Regions from separate parts of the Homo sapiens genome. Here region 1 is linked to region 2. A link means that fine-mapping ties the variant in region 2 to the expression of a gene that starts in the linked region. Tissue or cell type: liver. Region 2 holds a variant in brackets; the other region holds the start of a gene. All regions are shown on one strand. Distances are between the middles of the regions.

Region 1 (8,342 bases), 42 kb after region 2:
TTTTTAAAGTTCTCCAAAAACTGAAACACTGCCATTTCCTTGAGTGACCCATGTCAGTTCTTATCTCAATATTCAGAAGTCTTCCTTAGGTCCAAGAAAGATTTTAAATGACCTAAAGAGGAATTTAGGACCCTCTTTAGGTCGTTTAAATCCATTCCTTCTTATTTTATACCTGTAGAAACAGAGATTTAAAACTTGTTCATTGCAGCCTTCCTCATTACAGCTCTTCATCTAGGAGGCTACCACCCTTCCTGTCACTTACCCTTCCCTTCTGTAACCTGACCAGTAGAGATGTACTTGACCTTTCCCTGTAATCCTCTAACAAGATGCTGCCTAAAGCTGGCTAGAATGGAAAGATGATTTGATTTTCCAGCATGCATGGAGCTGTCTCTTTGTTATTACCTGCCAGTGTCATGTTGCTGCTGTTTTGCTGTCTTGTGTCCATGCAGATGTCTCTTAATTATGCATTTGTGTTCATAATTTTCCTTCCTACTCATGTTCTTATTCCTGCCTGGAACACCTCTAGCAGAAGGTGAATTTGACTAAGGTCAAATTTTTGCAGCCTTTTTCTACTTCTGGATTTTGTGTCATGCTTAGTAAGGCCTTCCCCCACTATAAAATTGTTTTTTAATTCCAAAAAAGTAAAAGCGTTTTTGACCTTGGGCCTGACCCAGATCATACTTTTCCTGGTTCCTGATCACCTCTGCCATAATTAATTTTGTCTTCCTTGTCCTTTTTCCTATATACTATATGCAATTATGGTCATTTGTATAAATATCCTATCATTCTACCTAAACAGAAAGTTCTGAAGGTCGACAGTTGCATCCTTGTCTCCTGACAAGAGTGTCCTCCGCTTCACAAATCCCTAATAAACATTTGGTTGAGTTTCTCATATGTATTACCTGTTCTTCCCTGCCTTTACTCGCATGAAGTTTGCTGTCATGAATGTGGAATTTCACTGTTTTTTAGAAAAACAATATGAGTTTTGTTCCTATTTACTAAGTCTCTGAAATTTTTAAAGTAGTTTTTTCTCACTTTTTCTAATACCTACCAGTATAATTTGTAAAAAAAAAAACACCTCATTAGAATGGTCTCCAGGATGAAAATAATGACCACAGGGAATTAACAATCTGTGGATTTTGTAATTTTAATATTCTGTGTAAGTGTGATGCATAGATATCCAGCTTCCTCATCACCAAGCTGAGCTCACAGAGCGTGTGCTGGCAAAAGGACTTGGGCAGCATGCTTTTGTGCCATCCCTCTCTTGAATGCAATTAGGCCTTTGAGGACTCTGCATGCCTCCTGCCATAACACACACCCCATTCTACTCTAATTGCCTACTTAATTGTCTTCTCTCTGATTGCCAAGCTCTTTTAAGGCAGGATCCATGTGTATCTTGGTCACCATGTTGTCCCCAGACCCTAGCACAGTGACTGGCAAATAGTAGGAGCTTATTTAATGAGTGAATGGATATATGAATGAATGGGTGAAGCATGTATTCATCTCAAAAATATAGTTGTCTTGTCCTGGTGTATAGTTTCAGAAGAGGGAGCCCGCCTCTTGGTCATTTTTACTCCTTTATTTCCTAGATTCATAGCAGTTCAAAGCATTTGTATTGTATCATATGGAAAATGGCATATCAGTGGCTCACCCACATTAGATAGAACTTTGAGATATGCTCTAGGAATAAAGATGATTTTGCAGTCTTCCCTTTACCGCTTTCTCCCCACCTTTTGAATTTTAACTGGTTACTTAACTAATTTGCGCTGAAGTTAATGGTGGAAGCATGATTGTTTCTATTAATATTACCAATAGCTAACACTTATTGAGTGTTTGCTATGTAACAGGCTCAGTGTTAAATGATTCACATTAATGCTCATTGGATTCTCCCAATGGCCCCATGCAGGTAGGCACTATCATTATGCCCTAGGTTACATATAAGGACCTCAGGCCTCAAGTCATAGACCTAGCAAGTGTCACAGCCAGAGTCTGACCCCAGGCAATCCATTTTAGACTCCATGTTATGATGTTAATTCTTATGAAGTTGGTAGTGATGTGTCACATCTGTTCCAGGTGAAGAGTAATCTCTTGCTATGTTTCAGCTGTCTTCTTTATTTCATTGTTGATCACCTGTGAATTGCCTCTTATATGACCATGCTGATCATGAGTAGATGAGAGAGTAGTGTACCCATTTTTAAGAAACTGAGGCATGGAAAGTTGAAGTGACTTGTTCGTGGCCACACTGGGTTAGAATGTCACTGCTTCCACTTGGCTACTGGGGGCCCCAAACTGTTAGACTTGCTAATTGACTTTTTGAAGGATATTGAGGTCTGGGGAGACCATCTGCCTCCCTACACGCTCTGAGTTCTGTGTGATGGAAACTGAAGGCTGAGTGTTATTCATTTGCTTGTATTTTATTTCTCTTACTGAGAAGTTATTCCAGGTCTCATGATTTTCACCATGAAAGGTCTTCTGGGAACTAGAGAGAAGCATTCTGAAAGAAGTTATTAAGCATTATTAATACAATTACATACAACAAAAGACATAATTTAACTTCCCCACATCCAACAAAGAAATTCATTTGAAGCTTCAGGAACTGCAGCTGGAAGGGCAGAGCTCATCAGAGTGGGTTCCCCAGGCGGGGGAGTGTGGGCAAGGAGCCGTGCTAGCTGCTTTGTCCTTTGGGACACTTCTGTGCATGATGGAATATTCCTCCCTCCCAGCCTCCCCAACCTTTCCCTCACCCTTTACTTTCACTCACAGTGCTTCCTTATCACAGGCACAGAGTCCAGAATATTGCCTGGCTCTTGCCTCTCTCCTGGCCCGGGATACTGCACAGGCAGCATTGAAGGAATATATGATTTTAAACAATTAAAGATGACCATGGAAATACTCAGATGCTAGGAACAGTGATCAGCCTAGTAGATAGTATGCCTCGGTGAATTTTTCTAACTTCATTCAAAATATCAGAAATAGCTATTGAGTATGTGATATTGTGTTAATCTTCACCATAGTTCTATTCAATATTTTACTTTCTTTAATTGCAGTAGCCCATAAGGCCCTTGAAAGCAGAGACTGTGTTTATACCTAGCCTTTAGAGCTGTGCATGGCATAGAGTACGTGCTTAGTAAATATTTATTGAATGAGTGAATGGTACAGATGAGGTTATTGAAGATCCCACAAGTTAAGTTACTTGCCTAAGATCACACTGCTAGCAGGAAGGAAAGGCAGGATTTGAACACAGGGCTCTCCAAATGTATAGATTCCTTTCTTCCAGATTGCTTGGTTAGGCCGCCTAGTGGTGTATAAAAATGGAGCTCGGAGACCCCAAAGGTATTCAACAAAAGCTCTATCTGAGGTCTAGGAAATGTGGATTCTGACCCATCCTTGCTGAAATCCTGGTGTGACTTTAGAAAAGTCCTTTCTCCAGTTGTCTCCATTTTCTAATCTGTAAAATGAGGAGATGGAAGCAATGCTCTCTGAGGGTCTCAGGGTCTTCAGATGCCCTGGGAAGGTTTATGCTTTGTCTTCTTCTGCATGCAGTTGGAATTGGGGTAAGGGGTTAAAGGGCAGCTGACTGACTCACCACCCAAGCACGTGAGGAAAGGAGTCACTTGTGCTTTATTTCGAGGTGCACAAAAACTCAAAGGTGACATAGTCTCAGGCCAAAAAACAAGCAACACCCGAAAATGAAAGTTGAAGAGAGAAGAGAAAGAAAAAAAAAAAGGAGAGGCATTTTTGAAGGCTTGACACAGCATTTAATTAAAAAAAGAGTGCTCTGATTCCACTCCTAGGTTGGTGCAGCATATAATCTGAAACAGGCGCTCAGGTTGATAATTGTGCCCAGATCTGAACCTTGGCACCTAAGAGCACAGCTTTTAAGAAGAAAAAAAATAGGCATGTGTCTTTAAAGCCTCTCTTCTTATATGTGATTTTTTTCATGCTCATTTGGAGGTTACGTAGCTGGGCCTTTGCATCCAGCAAAGGCTTCCTTCCCCTCTCCCTGGCTTGGGGATTATTGATTTGGAAGGCAAGGCTAATTTACATGTAAATAAATCTCAGCACTGGGCAGCAGGATGGGACGTCCAGATGCCGTGACTGACTTGCTGACATCACAGCTTCATTAGCATGCGGAGGATGCAAGCACTGCAACAGCGACTTCTCAGGCACCACCAGCAGCGCCACCGAGAGTTATTATTATTTTTTGACCAAGCAGCACATTTCCTGGTTCAGTGGCTTGAGCTCTGTGAGCAGCTGACTAGTCACCCCGGGTCTGGCTCAGGATCAGCTGGTGACGCTGGGCTGGAGTCTATGACTTCTTCCTTCAGATTGTCATGAAGAAGGGGAGTTAAGAGGAAACTGGGGGTCCTCCGGAAGGCGATCTGAGCACTCAGGCTGATCTAGAGGAAGAGTAGAAGTCATACTTTTTTTCTCTTGCTTGGTGAATTCCCCAGCAGAGTCTGGATCCAGCAGTGCTGTTTTCCCTGAGGGAATGTGGAGCAGCTCGGCTTGAGTCTGTTGCCAGCTTCAGGAAGGGTTCAGACTGAAAAGGGGGTTTGAGGAGAAGATGCTTTGGCTGCCTGAGGTCCTGCTTGCGTTCTTAGAAGTCAGATCCAGGGAGAAAGTGAACTGGGACAATTGACAAGCTCCAAGGGTCTGGCAGAAGCTTCCTCCGAGACTGGGCATTTCATCCTCCCTGGAGGTGGGTAAGAAATTTGCTCTAATTCACAAATTAAACAGCAGTATATTTTCTAAGGAGGATGAGAAAGCCAGATCTAGGGCCTTTGCACTGGGGGAGGATATTGGGTCTTCGTTTTCTTGGCCAGGTAGCATTTTTGGTGGCCCTGCGACCCCTTTTGCCTTTTCTATGCTGATTAGAAAGCTCGATTACAAAGTGTTATGTCACAGCTCTAGGGAGTCCTGAAGAAACGCTTAAATCTTGATGCTTAAGAAGAAGCAGCGTTTCTCTAAAAGTGTAGCTTTCTTTAAAAAACCATAATAATATGGGGAAAGGGGCTAACAGACCAAATACCTGATAGCGTTCATGTACAGTAGTCATTTCAACACATGATGTCAGAAACCATTAGGGGATCTGAGGAACAAGGACTCAGCTGAGACTTCCAGGTAAAGAAATGGCTTTCAAATTATTTAGGTTTAATTTTAGACACTGCTTTCAGATTAGAAATGGTGACAGAGCTTCAGAATATGACTGCATAGCCTGGCTGAACACATGATTCGGTTTGCCCTCTATGCTGGGTTTCTTGAGGGAGTGATCATAGTTAGTTCTCCTCACTCTTGGCTTCTCGAAAACCAATCATAGCATTACTAATTTGCCATGGGGGTCTTGCAATGAAATACAGATTTTTAATCCCATGGTTTTTTGTTATGTGGTCTTGGACTATGCTGGGGTCCAGTGGGACTTTTATGAATCATAAATAATCCAGGCTGGGCCAAATCACACTGAGGTTAGCGATCCATACCAGATGTGATGCCATCCGCTGGTCCAAATGTGGCTCTTGTCTAACTTAGGCACATAGATTATTTCCCCAGTGAGAGAGTTCTGCTTCCCATATCAATGCATGTATGAGCACAGTCAGGGGAGGGCTCCAGTGTGCCATGAATATGTAGACATAGACTGCCGTGTACTGAATCTGCAGCTGGTAAGGCTGTGATTTGCTTTGCCTGCACATCTCTTCCCAAAGAGTGTTTTAAACCATCTCAGTGAGACTTAAACTAAATGAAGCAGCCTTGCCTCTTTGCTAGAGGCCAAATTGGCTGCTGTAATCCTGCTCCTCAGAAGGCTTACTGCCTGCTGATGGCTTTCACAGATGGGTCAGGATGAGGGTCCCCAAGGGCTCCAGAGTAAGTCACAACTTTGACATAATTACCATATTTTGGAAATTTGGATTTTAATGCCTTGAGTGCTTATAAAGGTTTTGCCTTTCCATCAAATGCTCCTTCCCCTTGGGAATTCTGTTTTTCATGTGAAAATTAAAACATACTGGCTCCATCGGGCATCTCAGTCTATAAAGATTCACGGGGCAGCCAGAAAGAGTAAAATAGCATTGTTTGAAATGGTGTGTTTATAAAGATTTACCCATGAAATGTGAGGGAATAAAATAGAAATAGAGGAAGAAAGATGCATTTATGGAAGCTTAAAGAATGAGAAGGGAACTTAGAGGTTAGATAGTATGAGATGATATTTATCCAGGGCTCAGACTCTGGAGCTGGAAAGAGCTGAAGATACTTAAAGCTACCCATTCCTGCCAGTAAAGTGGAGAGAGCAATGGAATCTATAGTTAGGGTGATAGGTGTAAGGATTTAATGAGATGACCTATGCAGAGCACAGTGGCAGCCACATAGTAAATATTCAGTAAATATTAGCTGCTATTGTTGTTGTTGTTGTTGTCATTGTTACCATTTTGTCATTATCATTATAAGTGTTGTTGCTAAAAAACAGTATTGAAAAGGCAACATGTTCACATCCATTTGCCTGCAGAAAGGTTTTGCTAGCAGAAAAGATGCCATCTCTGGTACTGTTATATCCAAATGATTCCCACTCAAAGAAACTTTCCACCCTATTGATTGAGTTGACAGAATAAAGTATATTATCCAGAACTACTGTATTTCACAGAACTGAAAGTGACCAGCTGGTATAATGAAAATCATTTAGAACTAACTGGGGCTTAGGCAGCCTTAAAGAAGGCATCCTGTTTTGGCAGCTGACAAGTCACATGTAGAAAGCTGCGGGGTCCCAGTTGGAATCAATGCATTTCTAGATTTCTCTTCTGCTTCACCTATGCATGTGAGAGACAGTCCTTTTCTTTCTTAATTCTTTTCAGTGCAGATATTGAGCATTTTCTTCTCTATCCAGGGAGGCCATTGAATATGTGCTTAACCTGCTGGTTGGCTCCTCAGAAGTTCCAAGGCTGAATTTTTGCCACCATCTGGGTGCCTTCAGCTTATGGGTTGGCTGCTAAGGGAAAGGAATAGCCCTCCCCTGCCTGCCTGCCTACCATGGCCCAGTCTGTCTGCTTTTGTTTTGTGTCACTGCTATGGCACAATTTTGCCAGGCTCGTGGTCTGCCTCCTTCATGCCGGTGGGCCTACTTCTGTCACACAAGTGGACTGCTGTTTCTCCCTTTCCTCCCAAGATCTTTCTTTTTAATTTTGGGGAATTAGAACTCTGACACAGGGATCTGAAAGACAAAAGTGAATTACAAGAGTGAGAGGAGTCTGCCATAAAATTCTTTCCCAAGAAACTCGGAACTGGGAGTTGGTCGTTCCTGGTTGCTACTGATCTTTAGTAGAGTTGTGTTTTGCACGGAGAATAATATTTATACCTTAACCACAGCCCACCTCCCTTACTTCCTGATGGGAGGTATGATCTCAGGAGAGTTGCCTGACCTCTCTGAACTTTGGCTTCCTCATATGAATATTGGAAATAAAGTCCCCTGAATGCATGGGATTGCTGTGAAGATAGCGGCTATAATGCCCTTGCCCAATTCCTGGTACTGACTGGATGTTGAGCATATTTCCCAGTTAATCCCGATCTGTGAACAACAGGGGGCAGTAATTTTAATATTTATTTAACGGAGAAACTGAAGGCCAATAGAATTAAATTAGAAATCAATAACAACAAGGTATTTGGGAAATCCAAGTAAAATGACATAGCAGATGACAAACCGTGGTACCCGTCTAGTGCTTCTTTTAATAAACATCAGTTCCAAACACTCTGAATTTGAGAAGGGCTCAATGACCCAACTGCACTGCCTGCCTCGAATTAGCAGAAACCTCTTTATTTAGTAGCCCCCAGGCTGTGGTCATTTCTTCTGTGCTGTCTGTAAGCACACAAGAGTCAAAAGGCTCTGTCCCTCAGATAGGAATTCTGGGTGGCAATTGGATAAAGACTTTCTTTTGTGCTTAAAGATCCACTGAAACCTTTCTCTGTTCATTCCCTCCATGACTGTGGTGCTTATAAACAGGGAACTGCTGGTGACCATGAGCTATTTGCAAACTAAGAAGCTTGAGGATGAGATATTGGCCAAATCTGTTTTCTTTGTTGATGCTTTTGAGTGACATTTGCCCCTTTGCTCTGTCTTAACCTGTAAACATTTAAAATGAAATGTTCTGGTTTTTATGCTGTGTGTGTGCGTGTGTGTGTGTGTGTGTGTGTGTGTGTGTGTGTGTGTATGAATCAAGCAGGGGTGAAGATCTCTTTTGGGGATTGAGTCAGTCGAGTTTGGAGACTTCGTTTTCTTTTTTCTTTGGCCTATTGTCTGAGCAGTTTATTATTTGGCATCTGAAAACCATAGGCTTGCTTGTTGTGTTATTTCCCTGGGG
Region 2 (8,342 bases):
CAGTTATTGGTTCTTCCTGATTTCTCTGGTCTCTCCCTATGGGAGTCCTATTACACAGACGTTGGGCCTTCTCATTATATTCTCCATATCTCTTTATCTCTCAGATATTTTTCAACTCTTTATCCTTTTGTGCTTTATTTGTGTAGTGTCGTGAGATCTACGTTTCTTGCTTTACTAGTATCTATTTAACCTGTCCTTTGAGTTTTTAATTTTAGTGGATCTATGGAGAGGAGTAGTCATCATGTCTTGTTCTTTTTAAGGGTTTCAATTTTAGCTTCAGTGTTTTAAATCCTTATAAACTTTCTCATTCCATGTTTCTTTTCAGAATGTCAATTGTTTTATGACCTGTAATTCTTGAGCCTCTTATTCTTTTATTTGTTGACTTGTAACATCAGTTTCTTGGATGTTGTATAATTTACCGTTGGGATCTCATGCTTGTGGGATTGGTTGTAGCCTGGGTTGTAGAAGTGGCCAGAGAAATCTTCATTTGTTTCTATAAGGCATTCCTGGCATGTCACGAACAGGACTAATTTTAATATTAATTTTTTTAGTCAGAGCTTCCTGATTTTGACTTTTGTTATTCCTAGAATCTCATGAAAGGCACAGCCCTAGGATTTCTCATTCTCAGTTAAAACATTTCCCTCTCACCCACAATACAGGTAGAGACAGACAAGTTTTACCTAGGTGGTTGTCAATTTTTCCAATCTATTTGTTCATTGAAGGTGCAGCCCTCAGTGAATATTTTTGGCTTTCTACAAAGGTCTTGTAACAGCTTCCTGCTTCTCTTTGTCCCAAGGCACTGTCTGTCTCCTGTGTGGGCATTACAATCCTAGCCCCTAGGGAACCAAGACAACCCTTTTGTCTGCCACCAACCACTCTTCCCTCTCTCTCATAGCCACAGCATAACTTTGCATGCTTCTTACTCTTGTTTTTAATTACCTCTTTATTTCTTGGTATTTTCCTGTGGTTTTTTTTTTGTTTTTTTTGTTTTTTTTTGTTTTATGTAAGGTCTCATGCTGTCACCCAGGTTGAAGTAGATTGGTGCCCTCATGGCTCAATGTGGCCCTGAATTCCTGGGCCGAACCAACCACCTCAGCCTCCTAAGTAGCTAGGACTACAGGTGCACACCACTGCAACCAGTTAGTTTTTTATTTTGTGTAGAGATGGTGTCTTGCTATGTTGCCAAGTCTGATATTGAACTCACGGCTTCAATGATCCTCCTGGTGTGGCCTTCCAAAGTGTTGGGATTACAGGTGTGAGCCATCGTGCCCAGCCTTCCTTTCTTTATTGTGAGTCAGCTAGGCATTTAAAATAATTTTTGTTATATTTTATCTAGCATGTCTAGGTATTTGAAGAGTTGGAATTTTCAGGTTGTCATCATTTGCCATTTTGCCAGAACCAGGACCTTGTTACAAGCTCATGGTAAAAGGTTCAAATAATATACAAGGACATATGATGAAACGTTAGTGTCCTTATCCTCTTAGATCTGCCTAGGCCTCAAATCACCTTGTCAGTAACAACAACCTTTATCATTTTCTTAGGCATGGTTCTAGAAGTACTTTTTGCATATACAGCATATGTATGTGCACATACGTAATACATGAAGATGTTTTGTGCAAGCAGAAATATGTTTTACTATCTGCACTGTACTTAGCAATGTATTGAGGAGCTCAGTGCATACTGGTGCACTTAGTTCTTCCTCTTCTTTCTCATGACTGTATAGTATTCTATCATATGGATGTATCATAATTTACTAACGTCCTGTATTATTGGATAATTATGTTTTCAGTTATTTTGATCTTATAAACTATCCTACAATAAACATTCCTTTACATATGTCTTTGCTTGTATATCATTTAGCATAATTCACTTCGTCTGTTTCCTTCTCTCCCCTCCTCCGCCTGCCACCACTATGGGTTACTTGTGGTCAAGGACTTTATCTTTCATTGATGATCCTAGTACCTGGCATGGGGCCTGGCACTGAGCTGGCACTTAACTCACGTTTGTTTCATTAATAACTGTGCTCACTACAAAGTCAGATCAGCAGTCAGACTCAGTCCAAATCTCCAGCAAATGTATTTTAATTGCAGTGATAACAACAGCTATTGACTGTTCAGTTGTCCGAGGTTATTGACTGAGTGCCTCCTCTGGACTAAACATGAGCTCATGCAATCTTTACTACAACCCTATGAGATGGTAAATTTCATGATCATGCTTTACAGACAAGGAAACTAAAATGCAGGTTACCTACCTGTAAGAGGGAGAGTCCATATATGAACACAGTTTTGTGTGAAATTAATGCCTGGCCTTTTGACTACTCTCTTAATTAACAATTGTACTGGCATAGCCAACATGGGACATATTTCCATTGTTCATTCTTTTGTGTATTCATTCATTCAATCAATAAACAAACATTTACTGAGAGCTCACGACGTTCCAGGTAGGGAGTGATATGTCTTGATAAAAACATTCCTACCTAGGTAGAATTTACAGTGTAAAGGGAGTGACAGATTAAGCAAAAAAGTGAAAATGTGATGAGTGGCTGAAAAGAGACATAAGCAAAGGCTTTAGGAGCACCAAGAGCAGAGAGCCACGAAGGCCTCCAGTGTCTGTGATAAACTGGATGAGCCTTGAAGGACAGCAGTGGGTTGAGGGGGGCACAGGAGGGGTGAAGCCTAGGATTCCAGCATGCCCCCTGTTCCTTGTGTGCGTGGCACAGTCGAATCTTTCTCTTCCAGCCACTGCCAGCTCTCAGGACCTCTGGTGTGAGGGCCAGAGAGCCTGTGTCCTTCTGCTTTTGAAAGGTGGCTCAGCACTCCATTAGCCCTTTCTAATTTTAAAGTAGTAGCTCCCTTGATTGAAATCTCAATTTGGGAACAGGCCTAGGATTGGCCTGTGGCTCGAGATTTTCACCAATAAGCTGAGTGGGAGGTGGGGAGGTGTCCCTTTAAGCAGCCGGGAGGCAGCCCAGAGAGCTTGGAGCTCCTCTCCCCAGGACCTGAGCGATTTTCCTGGATCCGGAGCTGCGCACAGAGCAGCTGCCGCCCCAGGAATGTTACCTGCCTTGTGCGGAGCCCCTGCAGGGCCCCCTTCGGCTCCGGGCAGTTGGCTGCCGACGCCCCGCTGGGTTCCTTAGCTGCGGCCGCTACCCCTGCCCCTGGGTCTCCAACCCCCTTTCCCCGGCTCCCCCGCAGTTTCCCGGGCCGGCAGAGGCGCCGCAGCGTCGGAGCAATGCAAGGCTAAGCCGGGTAAGTGGCCCCCCCATAGCCGGGGAGCACAGAGGGCGGCGCAGGGGCATGTTTGCTCCTGGTTTCAGGAGCTCCCCTGAAAAAGGGGCCTTGCAGCTGGAAACTAAGCTCTGGGAGAGATGCGCTTTGCCACCCAGACGCTGGGAAGTCAGGAGCCCCGCGGTGGGGACCTGGTGAACTGAGGGTCTGAGTGTCAGCCACCTTTCGCGCAGCCACTTTATTAACCAGCAATGGTAATCATAATATCACGAGGCGATGGTGGTATTATTGTATTAGGACTACTTAAGAGGGAACATGAAAACATCCCTGGACTTGCTTTTTAAATAGCCTTTATTCTCTTAGAATTCATTTTCCCCTAAATATTTAAAAGGTATTTACTGTTAATGACCTAGTTATTTTCTATTCAAAATATTTCTTAACATCTCCAGGAAGATCTACTTTAAAACATGACTTACTTCTTCCCACATACCTTTATATTTTGAGCTTATATCCCCGAAAAGATAAAAGTTGTTTATTTTCCCAGAACTTTAAAAATCCATTTCTTTGCTTCTTGGTGGACTTCGGTAATGAAGCAACTCTGGATTTGTTAATGTGTTCTTTCTGAATTGGGGTAGGTGGAGAGGGCCCTTCTCCTAGCCCTTCCTAGCTCTACATGGGGGAGTGTATAGTTTGGAGATGAGAGAGTTAATTCTTACTTTCCAAGTTGCCAAATGCACCCTCTCAGATGCTGGAAGAGTCAGGACTTGGTGAAGGTTGGGATTACAAATCTGG[A/G]GTGCCTGGGCAGCCGTGCCCTGGGAAATTTTAAAACCAAAATAATCAGGAAAGATTGTGGGTAGGTGCTGGGTAAGATTTAAAAGATGAGGTTTCAGCTCCCCCCACCCATCTGTTCACTTGTGTGTACCTAAGCAAGAGGTTGAGAATCGAATGCAGAGGGTCAGTTTACTTTTTTTTTTTTTTAAGATGAGGCAGCTGGAAGACATGCCTTCCAAAATTGGAGCAGAGTCTGATGTGTGGATTGCCAAATTCCATTTCCGCCCATATTAAATTATTTTGGCTTCTAGAAGCCCTTATTTTGCTGGGCCGGCCTTTATTTGCAGTTGTTTAGGTGGTGTGAATCATTTGTATACTTTGAGTTCCCTGCTTTCTGTACGCAAATGTTTTTATCTGTGCAGCTAGTTGAGTAATTAGAGACATGGACATGGCCCTGTCTGTACAGACAGAACAAATACCACTTGGGGAAGATCTGGGCCTTTCCTTTTCAAATCATCAATTGCCAAATCTTCCCAGCCTGTTGGGCAATTCAGATAAAGGTGTCAAGTGAGCTGGGCAGTGAAGAATTTATATATGCAGCTGATTCTGCTCATCCTACAATAAAGCATCTTCCCATGGGGCCAAAAAGTGGGGGTTAGGGAGGCATATAAAAATGATCCTGTGTTCTTAGTCACTGACTACCCAGCTCTCTCTGGATTTCTGAGAACCTGCCAGGAGAAACTGTTGACTGGATGGAAGTTTCAAGAAATGCAGAACAGAAATCAGGACAAGCCCTCCTTGAGCAACTTTTATTTCTGTTTGGAGGAAAGGAACACTTTGTTAGAATAACAAATTGTGGCTGCTTTTCAAGACCAGAAAACCGTTCTTCTTCTGAAGGCAGATTCGTTTTAAGAGTGTGAATCATTTGGTTTAGCTTTTTTTTTTTTCTTTTGCGGTGGAGGCTTGGAGATGATTAAACGTCCTGTCTGCAGGAAATTACCAGGAGATTTGAGTATTTTCCTGAATCAGCCTCAGATGGTACACAGCTTTGGGTGTAATACAAGAAAGCTCTGTTACAAGGCAGTCTTTCCTCAGTGATACCCTCAATCTCACACAGGCTTTCAAGCCTCTGCATCAACAAGCCTTTTATTTTTTATTTTCGGGGTTGTACTTCCATTTAAGAAACTGAAATAACTCTCTCATTCCCTCTGTGAGCTTAAGATGGAACTTATTTTTGAGACAGTTTTATCGAGCCCACTTCCCCACTAGCCTCCTCCCACTTAGCTTCAACAGGAAAAACTCTTGGCTTCTTTTCCCAAGATTTCTTTTAAGCCAGAATTGTTATCCTTAGGGACACAGATGTGTCGAGGAATGAGAGGTGCAAAGGTTTGAACTAGCACTCACCAATTTGGTGGTGACATTTATGGTCTTTGTGGAGCTGTTTGCAGAGCAGGCTAAGTGGTCTTGTGTTGGGTTTGCCCTGAAGTACATCAACAATATAGAAAATGGGCAATGAAAAGACGGTAAGAGGCAACTGAGGGACATGCGTGCTGCTTTGTGTAGCTGTGTATGCAGAGATCTGTGGGTTTTTAAAAATAATTTAGAAAACCAAATCTCAGAGATGCTGTGCTCCCCAGGCTGTTTTTCTTAATCTTTCCTGAAAAGTACTCAGTCACATTAAGCACTTCCTATCACTATCATAAAGTAGGAGAGCGCTAGGTGAATATAAACTCTGTGCGATATTCTGATGTCAATGAGAGGAAGCAGAGGGAATGATTTTTTTTAGCTACTAAAACACAGAATGGTAATCCTAGTTGAATATAATGAGACTTTATGGAAATTGTATTGAGGTTTAAATGTGATGTTCCAAAAAAGTTTCTTTGATATTTTTTATTTTCTCAAAATCTGAATGGTGAGGAATTCTTTTCTGGGATACTTAGCATTTGATTGCCATTCAGTTTTTTTTGTTTGTTTGTTTTTTGTTTTTCTTTTTGCTTTGTTTTGTTTTGTTGGTGATGTTTTTTCATATCCTGCTCCTCTGTGTGACCAGCAAAGGAAGGCTCATTTTTGCAAAGATTGTAATCTGGACAACTTCCAGAAGAATGGAAGATGTAGGGGTAGCGGAGGGAACAGACGCAGGTACTGTGGGACTCAATGTCTGGGAAAACTCATGAATGATCTCCCTGCAAGATTAGCCCAGAGGCCTTTGAGAATTGCTTCATATTTGACTTTTAACAGCCAGCCTGTGTAGAGAAATCCTTGTACCTATCACTAGGGTCTCTCCCTCTTCACAAAGCATCTTCCCAGGCAAGATGCCAATCCACAGGGAGCGTATACGTGACATTGCTTATCACATCTTTCAAAGGTTGCTTCTTACTACTTTTTCTTTAAAACAGCTACTATTTGATCTCTTGGGAACATTTGCAAAAGGTTACTCTGCATTCACCCAGGCTGCTGTAATTAGTCACTGGTTTTGTTTTATATTTTCTGATGATTGAGGCTCTGTTCAGGCTTCTGGGGATAAGCAAACATCTGTTGAGTTGGATGTTAGATAAATTCTAATTTTGAACACTAAGTTGTCCAGGCTGGAGAAGAGGTCTCATCTTGCCATATTATAAATGATAACATCAGTAAACAGAATGATGCCTGTTAACTTACTGAGCTTTTGCCAAGCACAGACTTAACGTCTTACCAGTCTTTCTCAGACTTTATAGTGCATAGGGATATCCTTCAGGGAGTCTATTTCATAGGTCTGTAGTATGACCTGGAAATCTGCATTTAAGAAATATCCAGGTGGAACTCTGGACTTTATCTTGAGAAGCACGTCGCTGTTTGCTCTTTATTACTGAAAAACCCTTACGACAACCCTATGAGGGTTGGTGCCATCAGCCAGCCTATTTCACAGATGATGAAGGATAAGCTCAAAGAGGTTTGGTAACTCCCCTGAGACACAAGGCTACCAAGTGGCCATGCGGGGGACCTGGACCTACAACTGTCTAATTCCAAGCATCTACCTGGGATGCTTCTTAAATGCAGCCTGTGCTCTCAAGCATTTGCTCTTGGTGGATTGTTGGCGGGTTGTGGAGTGGGGGGTGGGGTGGGCGGTCTTCTCTTTATAATTTATACTCAGTAACCACCCTTCCCACTGCCCTGCCGCCACTCTGCCGAAGCCTGCTTCTCTAGGATGCTGGCATTCTGTAGACAGCAGTCCATGAGGTCCCCATTTAGACAATCCACTGTGATGGAATTGAGGGAGACCACATGGGGCAGAGGCCCTCGTGGCAACAACTTGAGGAGTGTTCAGCTCATTTGCCTTGGGTTCTTTAAGTTCTGAACCAAGATGACCCAAGATAAGGCTGATTGACTGTGAAGTGCTTTTAATTCCTGCAGCTTTTGGAATTCTTAAGACAGTTATGTTTCCATCAAGGGCCCTTTCTACCTGGATGTAGGTGCCACTTTCTTGCCTCCAATCCATAATGCCTCCCACAGGATCCTTTCACAAGACCTCACCCTACACAGCCCCAGAAAGTTGAAGCCATTTCCTAATGCTCAAGGCCTGAGCTCACTTGCAGCCCTTCCTGCATTCTCTGTATATCCCCCCATTCTGAGTGTAATCCTGTGGAAAGTGAACTCAAAGGGAATATTGTAAAGAGGAGAGGCAGAGACTGAACAAAGCCTCATTTAAGCTTCTTGCCTGATTCTCCCTTGGCCTGACCTGATTTCTCCTAGTCTTTGGGGCACATGGACCAGGAATGATTTTTCTTGCTTAATTGCTGCAGAATTGTGGATACAGGACAGACCACTTAACCTCATGAGCTTCAGCTTCATTATCTGTAAAATGGTATGTTCATGTCGACCCTTTCTCCTTCGGGTACAAGTGATGTAATGTCCAAGAAGGCACTTTGGACTTTGTTTAAACACATTTTGAAAACTTACTCATGTTGCCTTCTAGCAGTGGTTCTCTTACTGTGATATTGGGAATACCTGTTTGGTGAATTGCTCTTCTAAAAAAGAAAACAAAAAAAGGCGCCATGTGTGCGTGGAACATACGATGTTTTACATCTCCCTCTTGAGCCATCACAATTCAAAGGCTATGAGAAGGCCTGGAGTAGAGAAACCCATTGAGGCTTGATGTTGCATGTTCTGTGCTAATGTGACCCTGGAACCCCCTTTCAGCCTCACCTCTTAATGTGCCACAGAACACACTTGGGGGAAGCTGTTAAACTTCAAAACGGTGGCTCCACCACTTATTAGCAATGGGACAAGTCATTTACATCTCTGAACCTCAGTTTCCTTGTCTGCAAAATGGAAATAATTGGGACACCTACCCTATGGAGTTTTAGG

Evidence for each region. PIP is the estimated chance that this variant, and not a neighbour inherited with it, causes the effect.
Region 1: PRICKLE2 starts here. The variant in region 2 is fine-mapped to the expression of PRICKLE2 in liver (GTEx, PIP above 0.99).

The regions. Positions count from the first base shown.
Region 1 is chr3:64,221,270-64,229,611 of GRCh38, reverse strand. It overlaps PRICKLE2 (prickle planar cell polarity protein 2), which reads left to right and starts at 4,146. Exons shown (of 8, transcript NM_198859.4): 1 at 4,146-4,702. RefSeq lists a silencer at 3,965-4,259.
Region 2 is chr3:64,262,805-64,271,146 of GRCh38, reverse strand. It overlaps a transcript of PRICKLE2 not described here. Among named protein-coding and RNA genes, the nearest start is that of PRICKLE2, 42 kb to the right of the region's middle. The variant A/G (reference allele first, on the strand shown) is at 4,020.